2 linked regions of the Homo sapiens genome follow. The protein of the gene in region 1 interacts with the protein of each later gene in a pairwise test. Each region holds a gene or a part of one and is shown on either strand. Other genes may lie near its edges.

The links.
Region 2: the proteins of AARSD1 (region 1) and TRIM45 interact in binary tests that used the Homo sapiens proteins (3 or more experiments, as listed by UniProt).

Annotation. Positions count from the first base shown.
Region 1 is NC_000017.11:42,949,616-42,965,798, reverse strand, and holds AARSD1 (alanyl-tRNA editing protein Aarsd1), read left to right. Parts: upstream 1-1,344; 5' UTR 1,345-1,358; coding exon 1,359-1,397; intron 1,398-1,561; coding exon 1,562-1,693; intron 1,694-4,447; coding exon 4,448-4,607; intron 4,608-8,603; coding exon 8,604-8,661; intron 8,662-9,238; coding exon 9,239-9,395; intron 9,396-9,478; coding exon 9,479-9,595; intron 9,596-9,826; coding exon 9,827-9,957; intron 9,958-10,574; coding exon 10,575-10,641; intron 10,642-10,831; coding exon 10,832-10,923; intron 10,924-12,020; coding exon 12,021-12,075; intron 12,076-13,904; coding exon 13,905-13,999; intron 14,000-15,070; coding exon 15,071-15,206; 3' UTR 15,207-15,273; downstream 15,274-16,183. Other genes in the region: PTGES3L-AARSD1 protein, read left to right, coding at 1,562-1,693, 4,448-4,607, 8,604-8,661, 9,239-9,395, 9,479-9,595, 9,827-9,957, 10,575-10,641, 10,832-10,923 and 3 more. UniProt on the Homo sapiens protein: Functions in trans to edit the amino acid moiety from incorrectly charged tRNA(Ala).
Region 2 is NC_000001.11:117,115,103-117,131,721, reverse strand, and holds the start of TRIM45 (E3 ubiquitin-protein ligase TRIM45), read left to right. Parts: upstream 1-9,972; 5' UTR 9,973-10,520; coding exon 10,521-11,008; intron 11,009-12,954; coding exon 12,955-13,688; intron 13,689-14,976; coding exon 14,977-15,106; intron 15,107-16,032; coding exon 16,033-16,147; intron 16,148-16,619. UniProt on the Homo sapiens protein: E3 ubiquitin-protein ligase that plays a role in the regulation of inflammatory response.

The sequences.
Region 1 (16,183 bases):
GTTGGCCAGGCTGGTATCGAACTTCTGGCCTCAGCTGATCCAGGCACCTCGGCCTCCCAAACTGCTGGGATTACAGATGTGAGCCACTGTGTCTGGCCCAAACTATTTTAATGTAATGTAATGTAATTTTCTTGAGACGTAGTCTCGCTGGGTTACCCAGGCTGGAGTGCAGTGGTACGATTTCGGCTCACTGCAACCTCCTCCTCTCGGGTTAAAGTGATTCTCCTGCCTCAGCCTCCCGTGTAGCTGGGATTATATAGGCGTGTGCCACCACGCCTGGCTAATGTTTTTGTGTTTTTAGTAGAAACAGGGTTTCACCATGTTGGCCACGCTGGCCAAATTGTTCTTCTTTTTTTTTTTTTTTTTTTTTTTTGAGACGGAGTCTCGCTCTGTCGCCCAGGCTGGAGTGCAATGGTGCGATCTCGGCTCACTGCAAGCTCCGCCTCCCAGGTTCACGCCATTCTCCTGCCTCAGCCTCCGGAGTAGCTGGGACTACAGGCGTCCGCCACCACGCCCGGCTAATTTTTTGTATTTTTAGTAGAGACGGGATTTCACCGCGTTAGTCAGGATGGTCTCGATATCCTGACCTCGTGATCCGCCCGCCTCGGCCTCCCAAAGTGCTGGGATTACAGGCGTGAGTCACCGCGCTCGGCCTTTTTTTTTTTTTTTTTTTTTTTTTTTAATTGAGACGGAGTCTCGCTCTGTCGCCCAGGCTGGAGTGCAGTGGTGCAATCTCTGCTCACTGCAACCCCGCCTCCCGGGTTCCAGCGATTCTCCTGCCTCAGCCTCCCGGGTAGCTGGGATTACAGGCGCCCGCCACCACGCCCGGCTAATTTTTGTATTTTTAGTAGAGACGGAGTTTCGCTATGTTGGCCAGGCTGGTCTCGAACTCCTGGCCTGAGGTGATCCACCCGCCTCGACCTCCCAAAATGCTGGGATTACAGGCGTGAGCCACCTCCCCCAGCTCCTTGCTTTCTATTTCTACTGGGCAGTGCTGCTCAGTAACCATGCCAGTCCCGTCCCCGCCTCTATGCGCTGGGATTCCGCAGCCAGAATACTTACATCCCTGGGGCCCCAAGGGGCTCACTAAACCACGTGCCTTGTCCAGGTCGCGTTTTTTTGTTTTTGTTTGTTTGTTTTTTTCCTCCTGGTCTTGTCCTTTGTAAAGCCTTAGAACAGTCGTTAAACAACCCAGCAAATATGCAATTCGCGTTTTCAGTAAATTTATCCAAACCGCATTCCATTCCTTACCCTCCTGCTTCTGCGCAGACAAGCGCCCTTGATGACGTTTGTCCCACGTCGCTCTCCGTTCGCTCCCAGGCTTCTCTGCGCGTGCGCCTCCTCACACGCCTGCAGGTATGGCGTTCTGGTGTCAGCGTGACAGTTATGCCCGAGAGGTACGGCGTCACGGCGAGGCACTTGAGACTGCCGGGCCGGCAAGGCGGTTTGGGGAAGAGGGCGCCACGTGTAGGGAGTGCCAACATGGCATTCTGTCCTGGTGTGGAGAGGGCTAGGGCTAGGGCTGGGGTCGGGGCTTATTCTCTCATTCCTCTCTGTTCAGTTCACCACCACCGTGGTCTCCTGCTGTCCCGCGGAGCTGCAGACTGAAGGGAGCAACGGCAAGAAAGAAGTGCTGAGCGGTTTCCAAGTGGTGCTGGAAGACACAGTGCTTTTCCCTGAGGGCGGGGGACAGGTACCAAAACGATCTCTTCCCAGGAAGCCCCCAGTTTCTTTGTGCTCAGGCCGAAATGCTCTCCTGCCCCTTTTTTCTCAGCCATAATGAATTCAGATGAGCTTTAGTTTAATTCATTTTGTTATTCATTTAATGAGTATTTATCAGCAATTGCTTATCTAGACATAACATATGCTAGATATTATTCCAGGCTGTAAGGATAACCGGTGAACAACACAGTGCCTTTATATACGTGGAATGTTTATTGAAGACAACTGTGTGTGCTAGGTATAATAAGTAATAAACAAAAACCAAGTAAAGGGAAAGAGAGTGATGGGATGCTTGTCTAGATGAAGGGTAAGTTATTTCAGTAGAGACCTAAACGAAGTGAGGGGGTGAGTCTTTGCAATTATCTAGTGGTGCTGGGGGGCAGAGGGAGTATTCAGGCAGGTAGAATAGCAGGTGCAAAGGCCCCAAGGAAGGAATTAGCTTCGGGTTTTAGGGACTGAAAAAGATGTTCCTGAAGGAGTTCAGGTGAGATAGACGGGTTACAGTAGTACAGCAGAGAGCATATTTATCAGTGCTGTGATGAGGACTAGGTACAACATGAGCGCAAGTGAGGTACATTGTGAAGATGGAAGAGGAGGATAATAACACCAAAGGTGGGCATTATGAGAAAGGCTTTTCTTTCTTTTCTTTTCTTTCTTTCTTTCTTTTTTTTTTTGAGACAGAATCTCTCGCTGTCATCAGGCTGAAGTGCAGTGGCATGATCTCAGCTCTGCAACCTCCGCCTCCTGGGTTCAAGTGATTCTCCTGTCTCAGCCTCCCAAGTAGCCTGACCAACATGATGAAACCTTGTCTCTACTAAAAATATAAAAATTAACCAGGCATACTGGCAGGCCCCTGTAGTCCCAGCTACTCGGGAGGCTGAGGCATGAGAATCACTTGAACCGGGAGGCTGAAGTTGCAGTGAGCCAAGATTGTGCCACTGCACTTCAGCGTGGGGGACAGAACAAGACTCCGTCTCAAAAGAAAAAAAAAAGGTGTATTAAGGTGTGTGGGCAGCGAACCATGCAGGTTATTTTCTTTCTTTTTTATTTTTAAGAGACAGGATCTTGCTATGTCACCCAGGCTGGAGTGCAGTGGCCTGATCTAGCTCACTGCAGCCTCGAACTCCCAGGCTCAAGCAATCCTCCTGTTTTAGCCTCTCCAGTAGTGGGGACTACAGGCGCACAACCAACATGCTTGGCTGCTTTTTTGTAGAGATGAGGTCTCACTTTATTGCCCAGGCTGATCTTGAGCTCCTGGCCTCAAACAGTCCTCCCACCTTGGCCTCCCAAAGGCTGGGCCTACAGGTGTGAGCCACTGCCCTGGCCTCCACTCAGGTTCTTAAGCAAATAAGTGACATGAGAGAACATGTTCAGTAGACTTGGTATTGAGAGAGTTCCAATTTCATATCAGTCATTATTATGGTGATTTTCCCAGTATGAAGATTTCCCTGATCTGCTGAAGGAAAACCTGTGACCTCAAGTATCCATAGAAGGTCTCATTTTAGACAGCATTTCTTTCAGGAAGTCTTTTTTTGATTCCCCAAGACTGTTAGGTCTCTTTCCTTTGAGGTTCTCTAGCGTCATATACTTTTTCATATTATGGCATGTTATAGGTCATATTGCAATTGTCTGTTTTCCAGCCTCTGTTCTCTAGACTCTTAAGTTCCATGAGGTACCATATCTTGTTTACATTGTATTCTTGGGCTGGCACAGTCTTTTGTAAGCAGTTGGCACTTGAAATGTTTTAAAATGAATGAACTTTTTTTTTTTTTTTTTTTGAGATGGTGTCTTGCTCTGTTGCCAGGCTGGAGCGCAGCGGCGTGATCTCGGCTTACTGCAATCTCCGTCTGCCAGGTTCAAGCAATTCCCCTGCCTCAGTCTCCCGAGTAGCTAGGACTACAGGTGTGCACCACCATGCCCAGTTAATTTTTTGTATTTTAGTAGAGACGGGGTTTCACCATGTTGGCCAGGATGGTCTTGATCTCCTGACCTTGTGATCCGCCCACCTCGGCCTTCCAAAGTACTGGGATTACAGGTGTGAGCCACTGTACCTGGCCCTTTTTTTTTTTTAAATGAGACAGTGTCTCACTCTGTCACCCAGGCTGGAGTGTAGTGGAGCAATCATAGCACACTGCAGTCTCAACCTTTTGGGCTCAAGTGATTCTCCCACCTCAGCCTCCCAAGTAGCAGGGAGTATCATGGCCAGCTAATTTTTTATTTTTCATAGAGGTGGGGTCTCACTGTGTTGTCCAGTCTGATCTCAAGCGATCCTCCTGCCTTGGTCTCCCAAAGTGGTGGGATTACAGGAATAAGCTACCATGCCCAGCCTAAATGAACATTTTTGAATCTAATTCTAATACCACTGCAAGAGGATGGAGTGGAGGGAGGGAGGAAAAATCAGATCATTTTAGAGACTACAAAAGAATCTAGACTAAGGCAAGGAGAGTTGAGGATTAAGATTCTTCGGGTTTTACTAAAATTTTTGTTGCTGTAGTTACAATCTCTTTAATTCTGTTATTCTGAAGATCACAACACATAGGTGTTTAGAATGAAAAGGACTGAGAATCCTCTCATGGAACAAAGTGGACTCATTTCACTTGGCATTGCTTTCTCCCTCTCCCTTAGGGAGCCCAGATTCTGGGTCTCTCACCCTAGAGGGTCTTTGTACCTAGAAGTTAGGGTGAGCCCTGCCTTGCCATTGATTACGTTTACTTATTTCCACCAGCCTGATGACCGTGGTACAATCAATGACATCTCTGTGCTGAGAGTGACTCGCCGTGGGGAACAGGCTGATCATTTCACCCAGACACCCCTGGATCCAGGAAGCCAGGTTCTGGTCCGGGTAGATTGGGAGCGGAGGTTTGACCACATGCAGCAGCATTCAGGTAAAGGCTGGGATGGGGGACATAACACCGGAGCAGTTGCCATGTATGGGGATGCTGTGATGACTGAGACGTAGTTTGGGTTCTCTAGGAGTTAACCTTTTGGAAAAGACAGACTATTCAGAATCAGCTGTAATTCAGGAAGGATATCCTAAATGTTATAACAGCAACATGAACAACTGAAGTAAAAAAAAGTATTAGAATAACTGCTGGATTTAGGTATTATCAACTTCCCACTCGATATCTCCATCTGGATGTCTCACAGCCTTTTCAAACTCAAAATGTCCAAAATGAAACAAAAAGCCTTCCCCTCCCTCCTGGTCTTTCATTAGCATCCTGTGTGTTCATCGCAGGGCATCAGCATGCACCTAGTCACTCAAGTTCTGGAAGTCATTCCAGATACCTCTTCAGGCATAGACAGCCAGCCAATCACTGAGTCCTGTTGGTTTCTTTTCTTTTTTTTTTTTTTTTTTGACACAGAGTTTCGCTCTGTCACCCAGGCTGGAGTGCAATGGTGCGATCTCGGCTCACTGCAACCTCTGCCTCTCGGGTTCAAGCGATTCTCCTGCCTCAGCCTCCCGAGTAGCTGGGATTATAGGCCCCCACCACCATGCCCAGCTAATTTTGTATTTTTAATAGAGACGGTGTTTCACCATATTGGTCAGGCTGGTCTTGAACTCCTGACCTCAGATGATCCGCCTGCCTTGACCCCGCAAAGTACAGGCATGAGCCACACCCCCCCAGCATGTTGGTTTGTTTTCTAAATGTCTGTCCACTTCTTTCCACAGTCACTGTCATCCTAGTCCCAGCTCCTAGCTGTCTTCCCCCTGGACCTCTCTAACAGTTTCCTAATTGATTGCCCCACATTCAGTCTGGCTCCTCTGTAGCCCATTCTCCACATAGCACCAGAACAGTCTTTTTTTTTTTGAGTTGGAGTCTCGCTCTGTCGCCCAGGCTGGAGTGCAATGGCATGATCTCGGCTCACTGCAACCTCACCTCCCGGGCTCAAGTGATCCTCTTGCCTTGGCCTCCCGAGTAGCTGGGATAACAGGTGCGTGCCACCATGCCTGGCTAATTTTTGTATTTTTAGTAGAGACGGTGTTTCACCATGTTGGCCAGGCTGGTCTCGAACTCCAGACCTCGTGATCCGCCCGCCTCGGCTTCTCAATGTGCTGAGATTACAGGCGGGAGCCACTGCGCCCAGCTGAACAATCTTAAAAATGAAAATATGGCAGCCAGGTGCGGTGGCTCACGCCTGTAATCCCAGCACTTTGGGAGACCGAGGTGGGCAGATCATGAAGTTAAGAGATCGAGACCATCCTGGCCAACATGATGAAACCCTGTCTCTACTAAAAATACAAAAATTAGCCAGGCATGGTGATGCGCGCCTGTAGTCCTAGCTGCTCAGGAGGCTGACACAGGAGAATCGCTTTAACCTGGGAGGTGGAGGTTGCAGTGAGCCGAGATCGCGCCACTGCACTCCAGCCTGGCGACAGAGCGAGACTCCATCTCAAAAAAAAAAAAAGAAAAGAGAAATGGCTGGGCACTGTGGCTCACTGCTGTAGTCCTAGCACTCTGGGAGGCTGACACGGGAAGATCGCTTGAGGCTAGGAATTCCATACCAGCCTGAGCAAGATAGTGAAACCCTGTCTCAGAAAATAAATGTAGGCTGCTCGCGATGGCTCACGCCTGTAATCCCAGCATTTTGGGAGGCCAAGTCGGACAGATCATGAGGTCAGGCATTTGAGGCCAGGAGTTCGAGACCAGCCTGGCCAACATTGTGAAACCCTGTCTCTACTAAAAACACAAAAATTAGCTGGGCGTGGTGGTGCATGCCTGTAGTCCCAGCCACTCAGGAGGCTGAGGCAGAATTGCTTGAACCCAGGAGCCAGAGGTGGCAGTGAGCTGAGATGGCACCACTGCACGCCAGCCTGGGCAACAGAGCAAGACTCCGTCTCAAAAAAGTAAATATAACTTTTTTTTTTTTTTTTTTTTTTTGAGACAAAGTCTCGCTCTGTCACCCAGGCTGGAGTGCAGTGGTGCAGTCTTGGCTCACTGCAACCTCTGCCTACTGGGTTCGGGTGATTCTCCTGCCTCAGCCTCCTGAGTAGCTGGGATTACGGGCACGCACCACCACATCCGGCTAATTTTTGTATTTTTAGTAGAGATGGGGGTTCACCATGTTGGCCAGGCTGGTCTTGAACTCCTGACCTTGTGATCTGCTCGCCTCGGCCTCCCAAAGTGCTGGGATTACAGGCTTGAGCCACCGCACCTGGCATAAATAAATATAAGTTAAAGTGGAAATGTAAACAAGAAAAATAAAAACAGACTGAGCGTGGTGGCTCATGCCTGTAATCCCAGGCACTTTGGGAAGCTGAGGTGGGCAGATCACCTGAGGTCAGGAGTTTGAGACCAACCTGGTCAACATGGTGAAACCCTGACTCTACTAAAAGTACAAAAATTAGGCATGGTGGCGTGCACCTGTAATCCCAGCTACTTGGGAGGCTGAGGCAGGAGAATCGCTTGAACCCGAGAGGCAGAGGTTGCAGTGAGCTGAGATTGCACCACTGCACTCCAGCCTGGGTGACAGAGCGATACTCCATCTCAAAATAAATAAATAAATAAATACAAAAATAAATAAAAATAAATATGTAAAATGAAATAAATTTTATTTAATTTTATTTGTTATTTTTATTTTTTTTTGAGACAGAGTCTCACTTTGTTGCCCAGGCTGGAGTGCCGTGGTGCAATCTTGGCTCACTGCAACTTCCACCCCTGGGATTCAAGCAACTCAGCCTCCTGAGTAGCTGGGATTACAGGTGCATGCCACCACACCCGGCTAATTTTTGTATTTTTAGTAGAGACGAGGTTTCACCACGTTGTTTCAGGCTGGTCTCAAACTCTTGACCTCATGATCCACTTGCCTTGGCCTCTCAAAGTGCTGGGATTACAGGAGTGAGCCACCGCGCCTGACTGAAATAAATTTTAAAAAATGAAAATATTATGTCACTCCTCTGCTTAAAGCTCTTCAGAGGCTTCCTGTAGGTCTTCGTGTAAAGCCAAACTTTTTACCATGGCATACAAGCTGTATCTGGGTGGCTCTTGTCTACTGCTGTAGCCTCATCTGGTGTCCCTTGACCTCTTGCTGGCTGCATCCTGGCCTTGCTTGTCATCTCTGGATTCCTTTGACATGCGCTACTTCTTTCTTCCTTAAGGCCTTTGGCTGTCTTGTTCCCTCTTCCTTGATAGTTCCTCCTCTTTCTCCTTTTCTTCCTCCTCCTCTTCCTCTTCTTTCTCCTCATCATCACTCTTGTCAATCAGGGATGCTGCTGTATCTCTTATGTCAAGCCCTGTGCCTTGCATTTGGTAGGTACTCAATAAATACTTGTTGAATGGATGAATGCTGCATATTGGAACTTAAGTTCACTGGGCACAGTGGCTCACACCTGTAATCCCAGCATTTTGGGAGGCCAAGGCAGGTGGATCACTTGAGGTCAAGAGTTCAAGACCAGCTTGGCCAACGTGGTGAAACCCCATCTCTACTAAAAGTAGAAAAATTAGCCGGGCACGGTGATGCACGTCTATAATCCCAGCAACTCAGGAGGCTGAGGCACGAGAATTGCTTGATCCTGGGAGGCGGAGGCTGCAGTGAGCCCCTGCACTCCAGCCTGGGCAACAGAATGAGACTGTCTCAAAAAAAAAAAAAAAAAAAAAAAAAGGAAGTTAAGTTCAAGTCCAGCCCCTTATAAGTTACATTGCCATGGCAAGTTATTTGATCTCTCTAGGCTTCAGTTTCCTCATCTGTGAAATGGTATCATAAGGCCTCTTGCAGAATTCTCATTGTGATTTTCAATAAAGTATCTAAAGTGTATTACCCAGTGCTTAGCAGGTCTTCAACAAGGAGAATTTCTGTGCTTTTATCATTGTAGCTCATATTTTATCATTGTGGGAGTATGTAGGCTTCTCACTTTTCTCCTGTCTCTGGCTCTCTTTGCTTAGGGCAGCATCTCATCACGGCAGTTGCTGACCATCTATTTAAGCTGAAGACAACATCATGGTGAGTGGGAGGCATAAGACTAACTGTAGGCAGGCCCATCCCAGCACTGGGAGGGAGGCGGAGGTGGGAGAATTGCTTGAGCCGGGGAGATTAAGGCTGTGGTGAGCTGTGATTGCCACCAAATGGCAGCATGGGTGACAGCGAGCTTGTCTTAAAAAAAAAAAAAAAAAAGGCCAGGCGCAGTGGCTCACGCTTGTAATCCCAGCACTTTGGGAGGCCGAGGCGGGCGGATCACGAGGTCAGGAGATCGAGACCATCCTGGCTAACACGGTGAAACCCCGTCTCTACTAAAAATACAAAAAATTAGCCGGGCGTGGTGGCGGGCGCCTGTAGTCCCAGCTACTCGGGAGGCTGAGGCAGGTGAATGGCGTGAACCCGGGAGGCGGAGCTTGCAGTGAGCCGAGATCGCGCCACTGCACTCCAGCCTGGGCGACAGAGCGAGACTCCGTCTCAAAAAAAAAAAAAAAAAAAAAAAAAGTGGTGAGAGGGTATGCTTGTTCCAGTTTTTAGAGGAAAAGCTTTCAGCTTTTTCTTGTTCAGTAAGATATGTTATCTGTGGCCACTGTACTTCTGACAGGGAGTTAGGGAGATTTCGGAGTGCGATTGAGCTGGACACCCCCTCTATGACTGCAGAGCAAGTAGCTGCCATTGAGCAGAGCGTCAATGAAAAAATCAGAGATCGGCTGCCTGTGAATGTCCGAGAACTGAGCCTGGATGATCCTGAGGTGGAGCAGGTAAGGGTAGAGCCAGAGGGATGGTTTCTGCGGAATGATTCCTCATCAGATTCAGACAGTCCCTCCCCTCTCCTTGAGTCCAGGTGAGTGGCCGGGGTTTGCCTGATGATCATGCTGGGCCCATTCGGGTTGTTAACATCGAGGGCGTTGATTCCAACATGTGCTGTGGGACCCATGTGAGCAATCTCAGTGACCTTCAGGTAAGTGAGGAACGGCTGTGGAGTGGCTGAGAAGAGGGATTGGGGGAGAGGGGATCACATGGGGCTGGGAGTGGGAGAGGGGGATAATCGAGGAGTCCTAAGTGAAATCTCCCCTTCACTGTTTCAGAGCTGAGGAACAGATAGGTTTCTCCTGCCTTCAGGTTCTAGGATCCGCTGTGGTTTATGCATGTGCACACGTGTGTGTGTGTGTTACCCCCTTGCCTCATGTAGGTCATTAAGATTCTGGGCACTGAGAAGGGGAAAAAGAACAGAACCAACCTGATATTTCTGTCTGGGAACCGGGTGCTGAAGTGGATGGAGAGAAGTCATGGAACTGAAAAAGCACTGACTGCTCTGCTTAAGTATGCCTGTTTCAGTACCTTCGATTACCTCCCATTTCTGAGATTTTCGACATAATCTCTTACCTCTGGGAGATAAGATGCAATCGTAAATGATAAAGTGCGGCCAGGCGTGGTGGCCCACATCTGTAATCCCAGCACTTTGGGAGGCCGAGGTGGGCGGATCACGAGGTCAGGAGATCAAGACCTTCCTGGCTAACACCGTGAAACCCCGTCTCTACTAAAAATACAAAAAGAACTTAGCCAGGCATGGTGGTGGGCGCCTGTAGTCCCAGCTACTCGAGAGGCTGAGGCAGGAGAATGGCGTGAACCCGGGAGGTGGAGCTTGCAGTGAGCCAAGATCGTTCCACTGCACTCCAGCCTGGGCGATAGAGCAAGACTCTGTCTCAAAAAAAAAAAAAAAAAAAAGATCAAGTGCTTTGGATAGTAAATCAGAACCACGAAAAGTGGTTAATTCCTTTGTATGTTTTCTCCCAGTTGCCTAAGAGACCTCCTCAGAATATCTCCTGGTCCCTGACTGCAGGGAGGCACCATAGCAAGAAGGAAATTATTGATTTATGTCCCCAACATCAGAAACGACTGGGAAGCTGCGCAGGTCTCCTCTGACCTTTCTCTTTCAGGTGTGGAGCAGAGGATCATGTGGAAGCAGTGAAAAAGCTCCAGAACTCCACCAAGATCCTGCAGAAGGTGATTTATTCCATGGAGGGTAGAGAGGGCATGGGCCCTGCCTAGGATAGGCTCTGCAGACTTGGTCTTCTGCCTAAACAGATGTGTAGTTTGTCAAAGTGGGAGTGAGGGGAGAATGAGGTGGAGGGAAGCTGATACTCTCTATTGTTATCCTTTCCATTTATCTACTGAGTTACCATATCCATTTCAGAATAACCTGAATCTGCTCAGAGACCTGGCTGTGCACATTGCCCATAGCCTCAGGAACAGTCCAGACTGGGGAGGTGTGGTCATATTACACAGGTGAGAAATTAGGAGCTGGACACAAGGAAGGGGAACTGTGTTGGGCTTAGGGCTCAGTGTCTTCTCTATATGCAATGTACAGTGGGAGGTGGATTGCTCACTGGTATTCTCAAGGTTGAGTAGATCCTAAGAAATATGTTACTGGCCGGGCGCGGTGGCTCACGCCTGTAATCCCAGCACTTTGGGAGGCTGAGGCGGGTGGATCACAAGGTCAGGAGTTCGAAACCAGCCTGGCCAGCATGGTGAAACCCCTTCTCTACTAAAAGTACAAAAATTAGCTAGGCATGGTAGTACGCGCCTGTAGTCCCAGCTACTCAGGAGGCTGAGGCAGGAGAATCACTTGAACCCGGGAGGCAGAGGTTGTGGTGAGTGGAGATCACGCCACAGCACTCCGGCCTGGACCAACAGAGTGAGACCCCATCTCAAAAATATAAAAAAAAAAAGAAATATGTTACATACCAGGCCTCCTGGGTTTGATATTAACATATTTACTGTAACTCTGTATCTTTTGTTTTTTGTGTTTTTTTTGAGATGGAGTCTTAGTGTGTCTGGAGTGCAGTGGCATGATCTCGGCTCAGTGTAACCTGTGCCTCCTGGGTCCAAGCGGTTCTCGTGCTTCAGCCTCCCGAGTAGCTGGGGGATCACAGGCATGTGCCACCACACCAGGCTAACTTTTGTATTTTTGGTAGAGCTGGGGTTTCCCCATGTTGGCCAGGCTGGTTTTGAACTCCTGACCTCAAGCAATCTGCCCACCTTGGCCTCCCAAAGTGCTGAGATTACAGGTGTGAGCCACTGTGTCCAGCCTGTATCTTTCTTTAGGACTGTCCCCTACCTCCTTTACTCTCTAACAGATTTCTGCTTATCCTGGTGAATCCTATTTAAGGGAGATGGAAACAAACCTGGAGGTTGATTACAAACTGCAGAGGCTGAGAAGGGCAGCTTGCTGGCTTTCAGCCAGTACTCTCTCTTGGCTAAGGGATATGGGACTTTATGTGTACATAGGCAGCAAGGCCAGCCTCAGAAGGAGGGGCCAGGCTTCCTGCAGTTTCACAGCCACCACTCCAACCTGGGTCTCATGTCTGTGTCCTTTGTTGTAGGAAGGAGGGTGATTCAGAGTTCATGAATATCATTGCCAATGAGATTGGGTCAGAGGTAAGAGGAGCATGAGATTCTCTACCCCGGCCTGGATAGAGACCTAGGGAGACATAAGTGAGGGGCGCTAGTTTAGCCAAAGTCCCTCCACATGAACACATGAGGAGGAGGAAATAGCCATTCATTCAATACTGTTTTCTTAGTACTAGCTATATGCCAAGCTCTGTTTTAGGTGTTGAGCTAGATCTATGTTATTGCTCTCTCTGGGGCTGTGATGTTTATTAGCTTCTGAGCTCCTTTCATCAGAGCTCTAGCTCCTCAAAGCCATTCAGGTTTATGTGTGCTGGGGATCCAATATTAGAAATATATCAGTGGGCTGGTCGCGGTGGCTCACGCATGTAATCCCAGCACTTTGGGAGGCCAAGGTGGGTGGATCACTTAAGATCAGGAGACCAGCCTAGCCAACATGGTGAAACCCCATCTCTACTAAAAATAGAAAAATCAGGCCAGGCATGGTGGCTCACGCCTGTAATTCCAGCACTTTGGGAGGCTGAGGCGGGTGGATTGCCTCAGCTCAGGAGTTCGAGACCACCCTGGGCAACATGGTAAAACCCTATCTCTACTAAAATACAAAAAATTAGCTAGGCGTGGTGGCATGCGCCTGTAATCCCAGCTACTCGGGAGGCTGAGGCATGAGAATCTCTTGAGCCTGGTAGGCAGAGGTTGCAGTGAGCTGAGATTGTGCCACAGCACTCTAGCATGGGCTACAGAGTGAGATTCTGTCTCAAAACAGAAGACAAAAATTTGCTGGGTGTGGTGGCAGGTGCCTGTAGACCCAGCTACTTGGGAGGTTGAGGCAGGAGAATTGCTTGAACCCTGGAGGCTGAGGTTGCAGTGAGCCGAGATTGCGCCACTGCACTCCAGCCTGGGCAACACAGACTGTCTCCAAAAAAAAAAAAAAAAAGTAAATACAGGAGTGGGCAAGCCCCTTTGAAAGCCATCCCCGTCCATTTTCCTCTTCCTCTGGCTTTACTTACTCTTCCCACTCCTGATGGTCTCTAGCCTAGAGATTTCCAGGTCTTTTGTTTGTTTGTTTGTTTGTTTGTTTTTTTCAGAGACAGAGTCTTGCTCTGTCACCCAGGCTGGAGTACAGTGGCGTGATTATGGCTCACTGCAGTCTTGAACTCCTGGGCTCAAGCAGTCCTCCCACGTCAGCCTCCTGAGTAGTTGGGACTGCAAGCATGAGCCACCATGCCCCACTATCTCTTTTGTATTTACTCCAGAACCCTTCTTTGGAATGCCTACTGTGGGTAAAGCGTTGTGTATCTCTCTTTTCATAATTCTTCTGTATAGACAGAACTGATTCTCAAGAAGCTCATATTCTAGTCTGGGAGACAAATATGTATGTCGACATTTATAATTCAGAATGATAGAGTGATGAATGCTAGAGGTGGAGGAGCACATTACCTGAAGGATAGGGAGGTTTCAGGGGAGGGGCCCTTGAAGACTGCTTAGAGGTCATCAGACAGACAAGGGGCAGAGGCGGCCAGGCAGAGGGAAACCTGGTGGTTTAGGCAGTGGCAGGGAAAGGATGTGTGGTGGGGAAAAGTTTGCAAGAGTGAAACCATGAAAGGCATTTTCTGCTTAGCCAGGATCAGCAGTCTTCTGCTGCCTTCTTAATGTTTCACCTAAGTTCCCATAGTTGCTCTCAAAAAGTTTCTTGGCCCTCGTGGGCCAGTGTGGAGGGGCTGTATCATCATTCATCAGGAGCGTCACTTGGTGGTTTAGGGGGAAATAATCTATTCTTAAGATTGAAGAGAGTGCAGGATTTGGGGGGTTGACTCTACATCCTTCAGTATCAGAGCTTATCTCCTTGTCTTACCTCCTAGGAGACCCTCCTGTTCTTAACTGTGGGCGATGAGAAAGGTGGTGGACTCTTCTTACTGGCAGGGCCACCTGCGTCTGTGGAGACCCTGGGGCCCAGGTAATTCTTTGTGGACTCTCTTGCACATGTAGTAGAGCCTGTATCCTACAAATACATTCCTTTACTGAGTCAAAGGACCATCACATCTGCGATCTCATTTAATTCACATCATGGGCATGTGAGGTGGGCTGAGCAGAGATAATTATTACTACTGTCATTTCCAGTTTGACAGTTGAAGGTCTTTTGGCTCCACATCTCACATGTATGTTTTTGTTTTTGTTTTTATGAAATGTGTTTGTTTTTGTTTTTTGAGATGGAGTCTTAGTCTGTTGCCCAGCCTGGAGAGCCCAGGCTACTCAGCTCACTGCAGCCACCACCTCCCAGGTTTAAGCAATTTTCCTGCCTCAGCCACTCAAGTAGCTGGGATTACAGGTGCACATAACCATACCCGTCCAATTTTTTGTATTTTTAGTACAGATAGGGTTTCACCATGTTGGCCAGGCTGGTCTCGAACTCCTGACCTCAAGTGATCCACCTGCCTTGCCCTCCCAAAGTGCTGGGATTACAGGTGCTCACCCTGCTCTCTGGAGATTAACATAATTTATCTAGCCCAATTCATAGACACTGATGTTGTTTCCAGTTATTCACTCTTATGTGATGATGGTACATATATCTTTGTGCATATGTGCAAGTGTTTTTTTGAGACAAAGTTTCACTCTTGTTGCCCAGGCTGGAGTGCAATGGCACCATCTCGGCTCACTGCAACCTCTGCCTCCCGGGTTCAAGCAATTCTCCTGTCTCAGCTTCCTGAGTAGCTGGGATTATGGCGCATACCACCATGCCCGGCTGATTTTTTTATTTTTAGTAGAGACGGGGTTTCATCCTATTGGTCAGGCTGGTCTTGAAGTCCTGACCTCAGGTGATCCACCCACTTTGGCCTCCCAAAGTGCTGGGATTACAGGTGTGAGCCACCATGCCCAGCCTATGTGCAAGTGTTTTCAAGAAAGATTCCTAGAAGTCATCTACTCTTCTTATCCCTCTCCCAGTCCCTGGAAAAAGACTCAGAGCTGCCCTTGTTTTTTTTTGTGACTTTTCCCTCAAAGTCTCCCTGACTATACCTCTGTTCCCCAGGGTGGCTGAGGTCCTGGAAGGCAAAGGAGCAGGGAAGAAAGGCCGTTTTCAGGGCAAGGCCACCAAGATGAGCCGGCGGATGGAGGCGCAGGCGCTTCTCCAGGACTACATCAGCACGCAGAGTGCTAAGGAGTGAGGGCTTAGGGCACTCACCTCCTGTTTCCACAGGAATCTTTTGGTCAATAAAATAGATTGACTCAGAATGGTTGCGCTACCACTTGTATTTATATGACTAATTCGTACTGTATACTCCATTGTGCTTGTGTGGTTACTTTCCGTTTATAAATAGATAATTTTCTAATTTAGTTCATGCACTGTAATGTTTAGAAGGTGGTGGATTAATTTATACCAAACCTTGTGCTTTTGCACTCAGTTGGATAAGAAATGAACATCTGATCAGCTGAGTCCACTGCTCCCATAATTTTGTTATAATCCACAAAGGCACATGGCTTTTTCCCGCCCCTACCGCCCCACCCCCTGAGATGGACTCTTGCTTTGTTGCCCAGGCTGGATATAGTGGTGTGATCTCAGCTCACTGCAACCTCTGCCTCCCGGGTTGAAGGGATTTTCCTGCCTCAGCCTCCAGAGTAGCCAGGATTACAGGTGTGTGCCACCATGCCTGGCTGATTTTTTTGTTTTTGTTTTTTGTTTTTGTTTGAGATGGAGTCTCGCTCTGTCACCAGGCTGGAGTGCGGTGGTGCGATCTTGGCTCACTGCAACCTCTACCTCCCAGGTTCAAACTAATCTCCTGCCTCAGCCTCCCGAGTAGCTGGAACTACAGGCTCGCACCACCATGCCAGCTAATTTTTGTATTTTTAGTAGAGATGGGGTTTCACTATGTTGGCCAGGATGGTCTCCACCTCTTGACCTCGTGATCCGCCCACCTTGGCCTCCCAAAGTGTTGGGATTACAGGCATGAGCCACTGTGCCCAGCTGGCTTCTTAGTTTTCTTTCCATTTCTGTTGTCTACTTCAATCACAGTATCACTGTGGAATGTTGACAGCATTGTCACCTTCTTGGGGTAAGTGCTGCAGTTGCAAGCATCACTGGCGAGTATTCTCAGGGCAAACAGGAAAAGGGTTAAAGTAAGAATCAGAGATTAAGAGGGACGTG
Region 2 (16,619 bases), on another chromosome or scaffold:
ACAAAATTATTATTGCCTAACTCCCCCGTGAGTCCTTTGGAACAAAGGAGGAAACATTAAATATTTAAAAATTAGGGCTGGGCATGGTGGCTCAGGCCTGTAATCCCAGCACTTTGGGAGGTTGAGGCAGGTGGATCACCTGAGGTCAGGAATTCGAGAGCAGCCTGACCAACATGGCAAAACCCTGTCTCTACTAAAAACGCAAAAATTAGCCAGGTGTGGTGGTGTGCGCCTGTAGTTCCAGCTACTTGGGAGGCTGAGACAAGAGAATTGCTTGAACTCGGCAGAGGTTGCAGTGAGCCAAGATTGCGCCACTGCACTCCAGCCTGGGCAACAGTGCGAGACTCCATCTCTAAATAAATACATAAATAAATTTAAATAACATTGGTAAAATGTTATATGGCATATATAATCTTATGTGGCATTTTTTAAATTAAGAGGTCTTCATGGAAAATTCAAAATATTTTCCATCTTTACATCAAAACCTTTATAAATTAAGTATCTAATATTTTAATATAATTTAATAATATGACATGATATCTGGTATTTCCTTTGAAAACCTCCAGCAGAGAAAACAACATAAAAGTTGGGGAAGTATATTAAACAAGAGTGACAGAATGCTGTAACTGGTGATGTTGAGTGAGGGGTACTTAGGGGTTATTTATACTTTTCCCTATGCTTGTATATATCATATATCTGAAGTTTCCCAAATAAAAAAGTTTAAAAATTATTGATGATAAATTTTAAAATATGTGGGTATTTTTAATTAAAAAAATTATTAACTGGTTGTCTCTGACTCGAGGCCTGGCACGGGAGATTTACTATTTACTTATATTCTTGTAAATTGTTTGCATGTTTTTATCAGATACATTATTTACTCAAGAAAAAGTATATGTATATATGTATGTATACACACACATACCATACACACACACACACACACACACACACCAGTATTTTGGTACTGTACTTACTGCCTGAGGATACGGGTTATGCATTTAACTTCTCAGTTGCTTGCCCTTAGGTAAGTTGGGTAAGTTACTTCTGAGCATTCTTATGGAAGAATAACATTTAAATGAGGTAATGCATTTGAAAATATCCAGCACAGTGTCTGGCATAATACTGGCGTTCACTTAGTGCTGGTTTAAATTATATTAAATATGTGGAGAAACTAGATTTAATATAGGAGGCAGGCCTACCCCTAATATTTGAGTGGCCATGAGCAAGAGGACAAACAGGGGCATCCAGCCCATGGCCTGTTCTCATCTTTCTCCATCCTACCAGAGGCCCTTGCATATGTGTGTGGACACTCCAACAGGCTTGATCAAGTTCCACCATCCCCAAAAGCTGTCCTTTCACCACTCCTGAGGCCTAAGTGTGTGCACACTTACCCTGCAGTCTACAACTGCATGGGCCTGGGAGTGGGCTTCTGGCTATTTGTCAAAGAATTTTGGGCTTGTAGGTGGCTGGAACCTAGTCTGAAGGAGGTGAGGGTGGGGTGGTGAGGGGAGAGATGTACTCTTGGAATTCCTTGGCCCATGGGAAGAGGTGTGGCTGGAGAAGGGCCAGGATGGGTTCTTTCAAAGCAAAGGGTCCAGGCAAGTGCCACAGGCATCTGAATCGAAAAGCAGTACTGATTCAAGACAAAGTATTATATTGAACCACTCAATGGAGTGGGAGTCAGAAGACATGGATTCTTGCCCTAATTCTGCCAGTAATGTCATACGTGACCTTAAATCAGTGTCTTTACCTTGCTGCACCTCAATTTTCTCATATATTCATTTAATAAATATTTATTGAGCTCCAACTATGAGCGAGACATCCAACTAGACACTGAGGATATACAGAAAACTCAACAGATTGCCCTCATTGACTTAGCATTCTGACAGAGAGCAAGATAACTGGGGCAAACATATTCCAAACGAAGGGCCCCTTCTAAACCAAAACTTTCCATTCAAAATCAATCTTTAAAGTTGTCATGTTTAATAAGTACTAGTAATGAAAGAATCCTAAAAGGAAAAAAGTGTTAAATTATAATGCAATATTATCAAGAGCCTTTTATGATCAATTCTCTAACACAGCAGCATGAGCACTGTACTAATTTTAATCACAAGCATTATTGCCAAATGCAGCACGAAACTCAATCTCTAAAATGTGCCATTTTCTTACTGTTACTCATTTTACTTATGAATATTTTATATGGAAGATAAATTTATGTAAAAATAATATAATCACAACACATTTATCCACATTTTAAAAATAAAATACATTAACAGAATGTAGCAGGTAATTTTTAAAACATGTATTTCAAACAACATTAATATTGAGCTCTGTTATGTAATAAACATAAACAAGGGAGTTCAGAGAAACAGATGAATAAAGTGTAAATGTCTAAGAACCGCTTATATTTATATCAGACCAACTAAGATTGGGTGCAGCTTCCTGTCTTACTACATCAACTACAGATTGTTTGGGGTCATGACAGACAATCGATCAGACAACTAGGAGTCAATTGAGAAGAGCTAAGGAGTCTGTCTTGGATAAAACAGTACAGAATTTTTTTCTAAAAGGATAGTTGTTAATAATGGAACTGATATCTTGTGTACTTCTAGTTTGACCTAAAAGCAGTTACACAAGGAGAGTTCCAAAGCTCACATTATTCTAGCTGTTTCCTTCTTACCTTCTCAAAGTTGAAGAGTTGCCCATTTTCACAAAATGTCAATGATAAGGGACTATTTATACTTGTTAGATCTCACAACTAGAGTCTTCTCGGGTAGAGTGAACTTTTAGATAAAAATAAAAACACCCAGCATGCAGTGTGCCCTGGAGTCTATGCAACCTAGCCCTCTCTTCTCTGTCCGTCTTGGTTCAAAATAAATAAAATAGAACAAAGGAAGCTGAGTTTTATTCATAGTATAGCGTTTTTATTGAGCTGTTTCCACTAGATGGCACTAAAGATTCTGTGTTTCAGGAATCAGGCCCTTTTAAAAAAGAAAATCAGAAGACAAAAATGATCTGTCTGAAATAAACAATAAATTTCTCCAGTCATCTGTCCTAATGATCAGTTTCTTAGAAATGAAACATGAATCTTGGCCATTTATTCACTATCAAACATTTATTAAACCATATTAAGTTTCAGACACTGTGCCCAGTATTAAGGATGCAGAAACAGGACAAGGTCCCTTGTGCTTAAGAGTTCCCAGTGTGGAAGAGGAGGGGAACAGTGAGAACAGAGGGCTGAATCAGACAAGCGAGTAGAAAATTGAAATGCAGAATGTTAAAGACTTGATAGAGATCATCACAGTACCACGGGTAACACACAGAGGGATGCCTAATGAAGACTTGGTGAATGGAGGATTCCTAAAGAAGTTGATGTCTAAACTGAGCTTTGAAGAATGGGTTGGAATTCATTAGGCAAAGAAGAGTGGGCAGAGTGTCCGAAGCAGAATAAGTAGTAGCTTGTATAATCATAAAAGAAGGCTGAAGCCCAGTGTGCATGCTTGGGTTTGGATGGGGCAGTGCAAGAAATGAGGTTGACTGGGCTGGCAGAGGCAGGGTCATGGGAAACCATATATACATATGAGATTATATATATCACTCTAAGACATATGGAGTTTTATCCTGAAGGCACCTCCTACTCCTCTCCCCCTAGTTCATTCTGATTTTGTCACACTGGCCTCCTCACTGTTGCTCAAACATGAGTAGGCACATTCCTCTCTCAGCAAGCACTAACTCTTCCCTCATCTGAACTACCTTTTCCCCATGGGTCCCTCCTTCACCTTTAAGTGTTTGCTCAAATATCACCTTCTCAATAATACTTATCCTGACCACTCCAGTTATATTGCAACACCCTCATCCTGCACTGGATGCTCCTCACTCTGCTTAATTTTTCTCCATAGCATTCTCACATTCTAACATACTGTATAGTTTCTGCAGTTATTATATTTATTCTTTTTTTTTTTTTTTTTGAGACAGAATCTCGCTTTGTCACCCAAGCTGGAGTACAGTGGTATGATCTCCGCTCACTGCAGCCTCCGTCTCCCGGGCTCAAGTGATTCTCCTGCCTCAGCATCCCGAGTAGCTGGGATTACAAACATGCACTACCATGCCCAGCTAATTTTTGTATTTTTAGTAGAGACGGAGTTTCGCCATGTTGGCCAGTGATCTCAAGTGATTCGCCCACCTCAGTCTCCCAAAGTTCTGGGATTACAGGCATGAGCCACCGTGCCCAGCATATTTATTGTTTATTGGCTGCTTTCCCCTACTAGAAGGTAAGTTCCACGAGAGCAGGAATTTTTGCTTGTTTTAACAATACATCTCTGGTGCCTGGCACATAGTCAAAAGTCCTTGCTGTCAAGGAACTTATTATTTTAGTAGGGAGTAAGTTGTGAAGACATTTGGGAAAATCATATTCCAGGTACTCAAAGGATATTAAATGAGTAAACATAGGCATGGAAGAGCTACCAAAGAGCATGATCAAACTGGAATTGCAAAAAGATCCCTAACAGGATTATAGAGAATGAATTGAAAACAGGGAGTGAATTCAGAGATGATGGAGGTAATAATATAGTAAAAAGAGCCCCCATGTAACAAGTGGGCTCATGGTTTATAAATCACCTCCAAATCCCACATCAATCAAGGGAGGATGAAAAGGTTAAAAAAGAAGAAGAAGAAGAAGAAAGAAGAAAAGAAGAAGAAGAAGAAGAAGAAGAAGAAGAAGAAGAAGAAGAGGAGGAGGAGGAGGAGGAGGAAGACGAGGAAGAGGAAGAAGAAGCCACCAGCGTAGTGGCTCATGCCTGTAATCCCAGCACTTTGGGAGGCCAAGGCAGGTGGATCACCAGAGGTTGGGAGTTCAAGACCACCCTGACCAACATAGTGAAGCAGTGTCCTGTAGAGAAAAAGAGAAGTGGTCAGAGCGGCAGGAGGTAGAAGAAAAATCAAGAATAGCATATGGTAACTGAGGAAGAAGAAAGTTTCAAGAAGAAAGTTGTCAGTGTCAGACCAGGCGCAGTGGCTAATGCCTATAATCCGAGCACTTTGGAAGGCTAAGGCTGGAGGATCACTTGAGCCCAGGAGTTCAAGACTAGCCTGGGCAACATGGTGAGACCTCATTGCTACAAAAATAAAAATATTAGCTGGGCATAGTGGCACACACATATAATCCCAGCTACTTGGGAAGCTAAGGTGGGAGGATCGCTTGAGTCCAGGAGATTGAGGCTGCAGTGAGCTGTGATCACACCACTGCACTGCAGCCTGGGCAATAGAGTGAGACCCTGTCTCAAACAAGAAAAACAAACTGAAACAAAAAACTGTCAGTGTTAAAAGCTATAGTGAATTCAGTTAGTTAAAAACTGAAAAGTATCCAATGGATTTAGCAAATATGAAATTATTGGTAACTTTGGCAAAGGCAAGTTCAGAGGAATGGTGAGAGCAAATGCCAGATTGCGCTGTGTTTAGGAGTAAAATGCAAGGGAAGAAGAGATGCAAATGTAGACTATTCTTGTCAAGCAGCTTGGCTATAAAGAAGTAGAGAGGGATTGGGAGCTAGAGAGGGGCATAGGGTAGAAGGAGAGACTGAAGCATGGACATGAGCGGAAAGAAAGATCCACCAGAAAGAAGATAAAGACAGAAGAGAGAGGAGGCAGGCAGGGCTGAACTTCAGAGCACAGGTCCCAGGAGAAAGGAGTCTCCTTCCTTTGAAGGAAAGAAGGAAGGATGGTGACAGAGACAGATGGAATGGTGAAAGATAAGTCTGACAGAACTCTCTGGTCCCTTTCCATATATCCACTCAATGTCTGATGGTAATGATCAAGCATAGTGCCCAAACCAGCCTTGCCTGATTTCCTGATGGGTCATTCTCCCTTCCTGGCTTTCTTGCCTTCAATATCTTCCCTGTCTTGGGCAAACAGGTGTGGGCTGAAAGTCTTGTAGACACTTTCATGAACGCTGGTCACTTTCATCAGTCCTGTTCCTCTCATCCCATGACTATTGCTTCCCCAGACAGATGAAGCAATGTGTGAGCATGGAAGAAGACACCGAACTAATTCTGAGAAAGGAGCATCCTTAACAAATCCTCTCTCGTCCTGTGATGTCACCCCATATCACTTATGGTCTGCACTATCCATAAAACTCTTGGTTGAAGGTGGTCCTGTTTGTCCTCCCATTACTTGAGATCACCATTCTCTCCTTCATCAATAACAGGTCTTTATTAAATGACTACTGTCTAGGTTGCCAAGATTTTCCATCTTAACAGAGAGAGTATACATGTATGTATGTGATATATATAGTGTGTAAATATATACACATATGTAAATATATACACATGCATATATATACACACATAATAAATAAAAACAATACCACAAGGTAGCACAAACTGCAAAGTGAATAATATAGGCAAAACAGCATTAGGCTTGAATCTGGAGCCCTGAAATAAGAGAAAGCTTCAAGGGGGTAGTGTGAAGTAGGGCTTTCATAGAAGGAAGGGTAGGTTTAAATAATAAAGGAAGGAGAATGTTGCCGACAACTTGGCAAACACCAAGAAACGTGCTTGGCAATGTTTAGGGAATAACTAAACAAGCAGTTTTATGAATCTATTGAAGAATGCAGATATTATCCTACAAAAATGGGGAGCTACTGAAAGTTTTAGAATGAAGACTGACTTGTATCATGTTTTTATATGTTTTTACAATTAATTTGGAAGAACTGTGTAGATCAAAAAAAATAAAGGGCAGGGATAATTCAGACACTATTGTAATACTTAAGGTGAGGGTGATAAAGAGCTATAGCATCTTAAAAAGTGTATGCAGTGAGGTGTTGGCAGTGGGGATGGAAAGAAATCGGTGTCTGCCTGGATATGGAACAAGAGAAAGGAGGCCAGCAGCACTATAAGGTTTCATGCAGGAGGGAAAGGAGAATGATGATACTCTGGAGAGAATCAAATAGGAAAATTCAGAGAGTGCAGTTCAGTGAGCAAAGAAGTTCAGTGAAGTTTAAGCTATGTGGGACTTGGTGATAGGAACATATTTGAGTGCAGATTTAGAAATCTATGTCAAAAGCTCAGGGGAGACATCAGTACTGGAAGCGTTGGTCTGGGAATCATCCACGTGAGGAAATGTAGACGCAAAGGTAGGAGATAAAGTGGAGGAAGGGGAACTAGTGAGGATGGAGGGTGTGAGAAGCAGCCCAAGAGACAGAAGGTTAGGAGAGTAGAGTATTTCAGAAGTCAAGGAGGAGGCAAGTTTTAAGGATGAGGAAGTACAAAAAATGGTAAATACTAAAGAGATTGCCTATTGAGAAAAGGCCAGCAATATGGTCACTCATGATCTACAAGAAAGTCTCAATAGGAAAGAGGGGAGGAATAAATCGGTGGTGATGGTTATAAAAAGATGATGAAAGCAGACAGTGAGACCACCCTTTTGAGAAATATAGGGGCGAGAACCACCACTATTAATACGTTGAAGGGGAGCTAGATCAAAAGACGATTTGCTTCCCCTTTCAGGACTTCATCAGAACTCTTGGCAGAAAAACTGACTGAAACATAGGAATAAGGTTTTGAGGAAGCAGGAGAGGTTGGGATAAAAAACAAAAATCTTGAGGAACTAATCTTGGCACTAAAGAATGGCAGTCAGGAGAGGTAAGAGAGGAGGTGTGAGGAATCATGGATTTTTTAAGTAGAAAGGCGAGGCAGTTCTTCAGACAACCTTGTTTTTCTCATCAATGGAAGGGAATTAGCTGCAGCATGTGTGAGGGATTTGATGCTTAATAAACTGAGAAAGGAAAGGTAGAGGTGGCCAGGCGCGGTGGCTCACGCCTGTAATCCCAGCGCTTTGGGAGGCCGAGGCGGGTGGATCACCTGAGGTCAGGAGTTCGAGAGGAGCCTGCCCAACATGGTGAAATCCAGTCTCTACTAAAAATACAAAAAATTAGCCAGGTGTGGTGGTGCATGCCTGTAATTCCAGCTACCTGGGAGGCTGAGGCAGGAGAATCGCTTGAACCCTGGAGGTGGAGGTTGCAGTGTGCCGAGATCCTGCCATTGCATTCCGGCCTAGGCAACAAGAGCAAAACTCAATCTCAAAAAAAGAAAAAAAAAAAAAGGGAAAGGTAGAGGTAGCCCGAATATAATCTTAGATATGGCATCATAAGGTTGTGTTCAAGTTCCAGATATGTTAACTTGGGCTGGCCATCCAAGACCTGGCAAGACCTCTTTGAGGCCATTTCCTTACAATATTGTTAAAGGTTAAATGAGATACTGCTAAATGAGATATTGCACGTGTAAATTATGAAGTACTTCTGAAACAAGAGAAGCTTGAAACTACTACCACAAGAAATGTGATACAGTATGAACAAGAGATGAAGTAAAGCACAGCCAAGCAGCAGGGAGGGTAAAGGTGAAGTTCAAAGCAAGAATATATAGCAAACCCAAGTCCACACAGTTTTTGTGACTTCCTCCAGCCTACTGGAGAGGCGAATGCCGATTTTGAGAGTAGATGCAAGAAGGACAAGAGGCTGAAAAAAATCTAGGTAAGGACTATTTAAAAATCTTTGGAGATATGCTTAACATTTGGAAATTACTTGCACATTTTATATAAAGGTGGCATTTGACTCATTGGCGTGTTATATTTTGGAAATGGCCAAACATTTCATTTTTATATTTTATAATGGTTTTTTTTTTTTTTTTCATATTTTGGGGTTAACTTTTTTTCAGATTCCATACTTTTAAAAGCTTAGGCTCCAGACACTATGCCTATAGCATGAAACAGATAATGAAGGAATCAAGTGAAACAGTCGCCCACTGGGTACAAATTAAGTAGGGAAGGTCATGAACAAAGAAAGCAGTGAGGGCCCAGTAGACAAGCTGACGCAACTGGAGATAACAACAGGTGGAGGGGAAAGGAGCAGCTGTTTCCATTTTTGGAATTTTGGAGAATCAGGAGACGCCTGGTAAGGCCAGAGAAGGTGGCCGTGTAATTATAAAGTTAAAGGGGTCGGACGTGTTCATCTTCCCAATTAGTTTTAAGCCCACAAAGGGCTTGTCCCTCATTGCCACCGTCCATTGTCTCACTGTGACCAGGCAGGAGCCCTCCGTGATTGACTGATAAAAACAGCGGGTCCAACTCGCTCAGCTCGTTTCTGTTACACAGGACTGTGGAATCCCGGGTGACATTCAACTCCTTAGGTCATCTGCACTCCCCCCGGACCGGAAAACAAAGCCTTCCCGAGCCCGACAAGGAGGGTGGCGCTCCCTGGCCCGGCCGAAGTAAGCCCTCCATTCGACACCTCGGCTCCACGGTCTCCCGAACCGGTCCCCGTAACGCGAGCCTGAGATGCCCTCACCCCCGAAAAATACCCAAAGTCGGGGAGCCGCGGGAGTGCTTGTACCCAGCACGCTAGGCCTGAGGGACCTGTGAGCTACAGTAAGCGCCTGAGGACAGAGGGGAGCCTCGCAGCCTCAAACCCGCGTGGAGGAGAAACGTCTGGCGCCCCCGAGCGGCCGAGACCTCGGGAGCCCGAAAAACGTCTCCCACTCCCAGCGCAGAGCCAACTGACAGTGCCATCCACCAATGGGAGAACCCAGTCTGCGTTCGTGGGACGAGTCCGAGGGCAGAAAGAAGGCCGTCCCGGCGCCAAATCAGCGTGGCTTTTTAAGAGGTCCTGAGGCCTCTCTGGTCACCACAGAGAGAGGGACAGTCCCTGTGAAACGGTGACGCTGACTACACTATGCCGCTCGCTCCGAGCCTTGGCCTTTTCCTCCCGCCGCACTCTAAGCCCTTCGGCCGCCCCGCCCACGGCCTTGTCAGGTCCCGCCCCCCGCGTGAGTGGACTGGCGAAGATGTGGAATTTCCAAAACTTATTGGATGCTTAGTGGCGTCACTCTGGAGGGCGGCGGGGCCCGGAGCGGCGAGGGCCGCCGCTCTCGGACGGTGATTGGACTCGCCGGAGTAGACCGGGCTGGGATTGGTGTGAGGAGGGGCCAGAGCCCGCGGGCGTCCCGGGCCGAGGCGCGGGAGAGGCGGTGGACACCGAGAAGCCCGCCGGCGGCTTGCAATTCCCTCACCCGGCGCGCGCCTTTCGCAGAGGGAAGGAGCAAGAGGGCCCCTACCTCATCGTGCGCGGGTGGGGTCGGCGCTTGTCGCGTGTGGCGCGCAGTGGGGCGGGCGGCGGGAGGGGGGTGGCAGTGGAGGGAGCGAGAGGTGCAGGGGTGACTTTGTTGGCAGCAGGACTAGCTGGAGAGCTAGACCTGGAAGCGCATCCGGGGAGGACTTGCGGGGCAGAGGAGGGCGTGGGCGTGTCTGGTGTGGGATGCAGTGGAAAGGAGGGGGCCCTCCTGAGTAGATCTGTGGGTGATTCCTTCGAGGACGCCTCGTCTTCCCGTCTGCCCTTTTATTTGTCAGCGAGGGAGTCCCCATGGTCTCTGTTCAAGTTCTGGAGACTTTCTCTTTGGGTGGGCTTAATCACCTGCTACTAAATCGTAGAACTGCCCAGGGCCCTTTCTAATATTGGTCACAAACGTGAGGAGTATGTCAGAAAACAGAAAACCGCTGCTGGGCTTTGTAAGCAAACTCACTAGTGGGACTGCACTTGGGAACTCAGGCAAGACTCACTGCCCCCTGTGCTTGGGGCTTTTCAAAGCCCCCAGGCTCTTGCCTTGTTTGCATACAGTTTGCACCACGTGTCTGGAGCAGCTGGAGCCCTTCTCAGTAGTGGACATCCGAGGGGGAGACTCTGACACAAGCTCTGAGGGGTCAATATTCCAGGAACTCAAGCCACGAAGTCTGCAGTCGCAGATCGGCATCCTTTGTCCTGTATGTGATGCTCAGGTGGACCTGCCCATGGGTGGAGTGAAGGCTTTAACCATAGACCACCTGGCCGTGAATGATGTGATGCTGGAGAGCCTACGTGGGGAAGGCCAGGGCCTGGTGTGTGACCTGTGCAACGACAGGGAAGTAGAGAAGAGGTGTCAGACCTGCAAAGCCAACCTCTGCCACTTCTGCTGCCAGGCTCATAGGTAAAGATGGGACACTCCATCAGGTGTAGCTTAAGAGCAGATTACAAAGAGGTGTCAAGACAAATCCCTCGGTGAGCAGATGAAAAGGAAAGCCTTCTCAAATACCGTGGAAGGTCAAAGAGCAATATAACAATGCAATAGCAAATACTCCAGTACAACAGTTAACCCGGTTAGCCTAATATAGTACCTAATATATAGCCTAATATAGCAATAGCAATAAACCCTTTCAATTTACAAAGTGCAGCTACAGTTTCCTTCAGTCATTCGTGTAGTGAATAATTGTACTGGGTGCTGGAGAAACAGGAGAATGAATATAACAGCATAGATCCTGTTCTTGATCTCCTTCGATCTTGCAACTCTTACAGAAAAGCAGGCCCTGTTTTCGCCCCCATTTATTAATTGGGGAAACAAGCTCAGCAATATTATGTGATTTGCCAAGGTCCTACAGTTGGTAAGTGTGTAACAGAACTGAGTATTAAATCCAGATCATTTTGACTACATTCCAGTAACCCATGCTGTGCTCCTAGAATAGGTGATGATGATTGGCCGGACCTCAGCTTTTGCTTTGTGTACCTTAGAGTTACTCTGGAGCTTGGTGAGGTGGGCTGGTAGGTGTTAATTGGGGTGCAGACTATGTGTTTTATGGCATTTGGTGAATAGTTTGTCAGATGGATCACTTTTGTCCCTTCGTACTCTTACCTTACCCCATCCTAGGACACCAGAATATAAAATGACCACAGTTTTAGGATTAGCCTAAAATAGGTTTCGGGTTCTACTTCCATTTGTTTTCTGGCTACACTAACAGAACAAGTTTGTAGACTTCACTCTATTTTTAACTTGTAATTATGTGATAGTCCCTGCGACTGTCTTGCTGCCAGCCAAACCAGCTAACCCTATTTTCTCTGCAGCCACTCTTCTGGTGCCAGAATAGGCATATAAGCTTCAAATTGATACAATGCTAATGGAGGAACTCTGAACAGTCACCATGTTTTCCTAAGGATTTCCCTACATCTCTAGAGGGCTACTATAGGAAAGGAATTAGAAAGAGAGCTTTGATTCTACTAACCATTGGTTTCACACTTTCTTTTCTCTTTTTTTTTTTTTCTGAGATGGAGTCTGGCTCTAGTCGCCCAGGCTGGAGTGCAATAACACAATCTCCACTCACTGCAACCTCCACCTCCTAGGTTCAAGCGATTCTCCTGCCTCAGCCTCCCCAGTAGCTGGGATTACAGGCACATGCCACCACGCCTGGCTAATTTTTTGTATTTTTAGTAGAGACAGGGTTTCACCATGTTGGCCAGGCTGGTCTCAAACTCCTGACCTCAGTTGATCCGCCCACCTCAGCCTCCCAAAATGCTGGGGTTACAGGCGTGAGCCACCGCGCCCGGCCGGTTTCACGCTTTCTAATGATGTTGACGATGTCTCTTGAAAAAAATTCTAGCCTGCTGATTTGGGTGATACAGGTCAACAGAAATGCTTCACCAAAATCTTAGATGCAAGCTAGATGAGACTTGGTGTCTGCTTTTTAATTGCTTGGACTTTATTGCTGTGTTATCTGGCATGGTTTCTGTTTCTTGATGCTGGTTTTCTGCCATGCCCTCACTGCTAGCTTACCTTAGGAAGCCGACTGTGACTCTTGTCTAAACTCTTTGGGAAAGTTCTAGCATGCAGTCATAGTCTTGCAACCTTCTGCATAGGCATGTAGCCAGCCAGAGCCCTAGTCTGTTCACACGTTATTCTATACAACAGCTCTTTCAGGTAGGTATTGTCCCCACTGTACAGATGAGAAACTGGAATCAGAGAGGTTCATGCAATTAGAGATTAGAGCAAGGAATTGAAATCAGGTTTGTTTAACTTCAGATCCTGTGCTCCTAAAATCTCTCTGCCCAACTATTCCCAACAGAATTATCCCCTTATTTCCTGTTACTGATTCTGTTTGCCCCTAGGCGGCAGAAGAAAACGACTTACCACACCATGGTGGACCTAAAAGACTTGAAAGGCTACAGCCGGATTGGGAAGCCCATCCTGTGTCCTGTTCACCCTGCAGAGGAACTGAGGCTGTTCTGTGAGTTCTGTGACCGGCCCGTGTGCCAGGATTGTGTGGTGGGGGAGCATCGGGAACACCCCTGTGACTTCACCAGCAATGTCATCCACAAGCATGGGGACTCTGTGTGGGAGCTCCTCAAAGGTACTCAGCCCCACGTGGAGGCCCTGGAGGAAGCCCTGGCTCAGATCCACATAATAAACAGTGCCCTCCAGAAGCGAGTGGAGGCAGTGGCAGCTGATGTCCGGACATTCTCGGAGGGCTACATTAAGGCCATTGAGGAGCATCGGGACAAGCTGCTGAAGCAGCTGGAAGACATACGGGCCCAGAAGGAAAATTCCCTGCAGCTGCAGAAGGCCCAGCTGGAACAGTTACTGGCAGACATGCGGACTGGAGTGGAGTTCACCGAGCACTTGCTGACCAGCGGCTCAGACTTGGAGATCCTCATCACCAAGAGGGTGGTGGTAGAACGGCTCAGGAAGCTGAACAAAGTTCAATATAGCACCCGTCCTGGAGTAAATGATAAGATACGCTTCTGTCCTCAGGAGAAAGCAGGCCAGTGCCGTGGCTATGAAATTTATGGTACGATTAATACCAAAGAGGTTGATCCAGCCAAATGTGTCCTACAAGGAGAAGGTAGGAAGGCATTTCCCATTGACATTGAGAGGGCAGTGGACAGGGAGGTGGTGTGTGAAGATTGGTGGCTTGTTCTGCTAGGAAGCATGCCCTACTGACCAGGTTACCAAAGGTGGGGAGATAAACTGATCTGAAAGACAGTGACCCCCACCTTTGCCCTTTCTGGTTTGTTCTGGCTAGGGTACAGTTAATACAGGAGTGAGGCTTGACCCTTTTCCAGTTCAGAGAAGTAATAATGGCTGAGAAACACACAGATCATGTTTTGTTTCTATCAGATGGCAGAACAGAGACAGTGCCCGTTGGAGGTAACAGCAGTGACTAGGGCCAGGTGAAATTCTGCCTGCTCAGAGAGGAGCATGGCAGGCCCTGGATTCCTAGATCAAGTTCTGAAGGGAGTTTCAGAGGAATGAGGAAGATGAGATTACGGTTTCCTTTCCTTTAGGCCCTTTTTGGTTCACATCAACTTTACTGGCATTTAAAAGGATATGGTAGGTGTTTCATTTAATTGGGGGAAAAAATGGTTTTTTTTAACGAGTGTTCCCTTTCTAATGGAAGCATATTATTAAAACATATGTTTCACAGGTCAGTAGGTCAGTCCTGATAGGAAGATTGCATCTTAATGACACAGGCATTCTTAACTGTTTGGAAGCCATAGATCTCTTTGAGAATGTTCTCTCCTACAGAAACACCCAGTAACTTGTGCATACAATTCCAGATTTTTAGACTCTTCATAAGCCTTTCCATAGACCTCATAGTAGTTCATGAACCTCAGGTTAAGAAACCCTGTTTCATCTGAATGCTGGAGTAGGGGCTGTAGCTACTGGATATCCCCCCAGTACCTTGGCATGAGCTACCAAGTTGCAGAGGATCTCAAAACATGGAGGGTCGTGAGGCTGGTCAGCTGTACTCCCTGCCTAGCCCAGCAGGATCTGGAGCTTAGGGAGGGTGGTTTTGGGGTTACTATCCTCTCTCACAGGGTCTAGAGGTTTTCTTTAAATACCTCGGTCAGTCGTGAGTATTTTTAAAGCATAGGACCTTCAGTCCTAGGACTGAAGGTAAGGTCCAGGATCCTGTGTGATCCAAAGCAGCTGCTAGCTGAGAGAACCAGGCCAACCAGGAAGGACTCCCAAGAGGCGTACTCTGGGAGGCAGAAGGGGAAGAGAAAACAAAGGGACCCAGGGTGGTTACAGTAAAGTACAACCCTTTGTTCTGAAGAGAAAAAGCAAGATGGAGATGTAGTCACTGCAGTTTACATTCGAGGTGAGGACCGAGTGTTTATCTTTTTCAGACCTCCACAGAGCCCGGGAGAAACAGACGGCCTCTTTCACCCTGCTTTGTAAGGATGCCGCAGGAGAAATCATGGGCAGGGGAGGAGACAACGTTCAAGTTGCCGTTGTCCCTAAAGATAAGAAAGACAGGTTTGTATGACACAATTAGGTGTCATGGATAACAGGCAGTGAGAAAACTGGAAACATGAGGTCCTTTAAGATATTGGAGCTGGGCACAGTGGCTCATGCCTGTAATCCCAGCACTTTGGGAAGTGGAGGCAGGAGGATCGCTTAAGCCCAAGAGTTCAAGACCAGCCTGGGCAACATAGGGACACCCTGTCTCTACAAAATTAAAAAAAAAAAAATTAGCCGGGAGTGGAGGCATATGCCTATAATCCCAGCTATTCAGGAGGCTGAGATGGGAGGATCCCTTGAGCCCAGGAGGTCGAGGTTGCAGTGAGCTGTGATTGTGCCAGTGCACTCCAGCCTGGGCAACAGAGCAAGACCCCAGGTCCAAAAAAAAAAAAAAGATATTGGAGTGTAACTCACTAGTTACGTCTTACCTCCCCATAATACTATGAAACGTTACGTGACCAAATGTGTTTTCTTGTGTGGGTTTTGTATTCAATTCTCTCTCAAAGCTATGGTCTGCCCCTCAGATTGTTTTCATCTCAAGCTTTAGAATAAGTTGAAAAATATTCTGTGTTAGACTGAATGGTACCCTTTTCAAAATTCAGTCTCCCTTTGGTACTAAATTATGCCTGGAGCATGTTTATATTTCTCTGGAATTGTAGAATGGAGGAGGGACAACAGAGCAAGAGGGTTCAACAGAAGCCTGTTGAAAAGGACACAATAATATATTCAAGGAATTTGTCTGAATATCAGACTAAATTGGAATTTATGCTGTTTACCTTCTGTTGTAAAATTAACTTCTGAAGCAAATGGAAGAAGCATCCTGTTTGGGTATATTTAACATTAATACTGAATGGGATGGTGTAGAGTTTACATTCTGAAATAGTAGCAACTGAAGCCAGCTTGTGGAAGTGAGTGGTGTTTTGACTCTTATCTCCATTCAGCCCAGTCAGAACAATGGTCCAGGATAACAAGGATGGGACATACTACATTTCCTACACCCCCAAGGAACCTGGCGTCTATACTGTGTGGGTCTGCATCAAAGAACAGCATGTGCAGGTAAGACTGGTGCACGTGCTTCCCTGAGCTCCCTGGATTCTACTGTCTTAGGATCTGGAGACATTTCACATAGGATCAGCTATACAGAGAGATTGAATAGAATCCCCATGTCTTCTTCTTCACTTTAGAAACAGCCCAGATTTTGCTACTCTTATTCTTCCTGGAGGATGCTGTTGACCATAAGAACCCTGTATCCCTGTGTCACCTCCAGGCAGTTATGCTTATAGCTTATCATTCTCCCAGTTGGTTTCTTAGGATTCTTAATATGGAGAAGATGTCTTGATCACAGGGGGTGATCTGCCAGCAGACAACCATGCATATTCAAAAAATATAATCTAGCTCAGGATTTTCCAGTTTTGTCCAGACTGTGTCTGGACATGAACACAGTTGAGAGGGTTATGCCCCCTCCTCACAATTGACTAGTCATCTATCTGCCTAACCATCTGCTCATGTAATTTTCTACTCTGTTTTA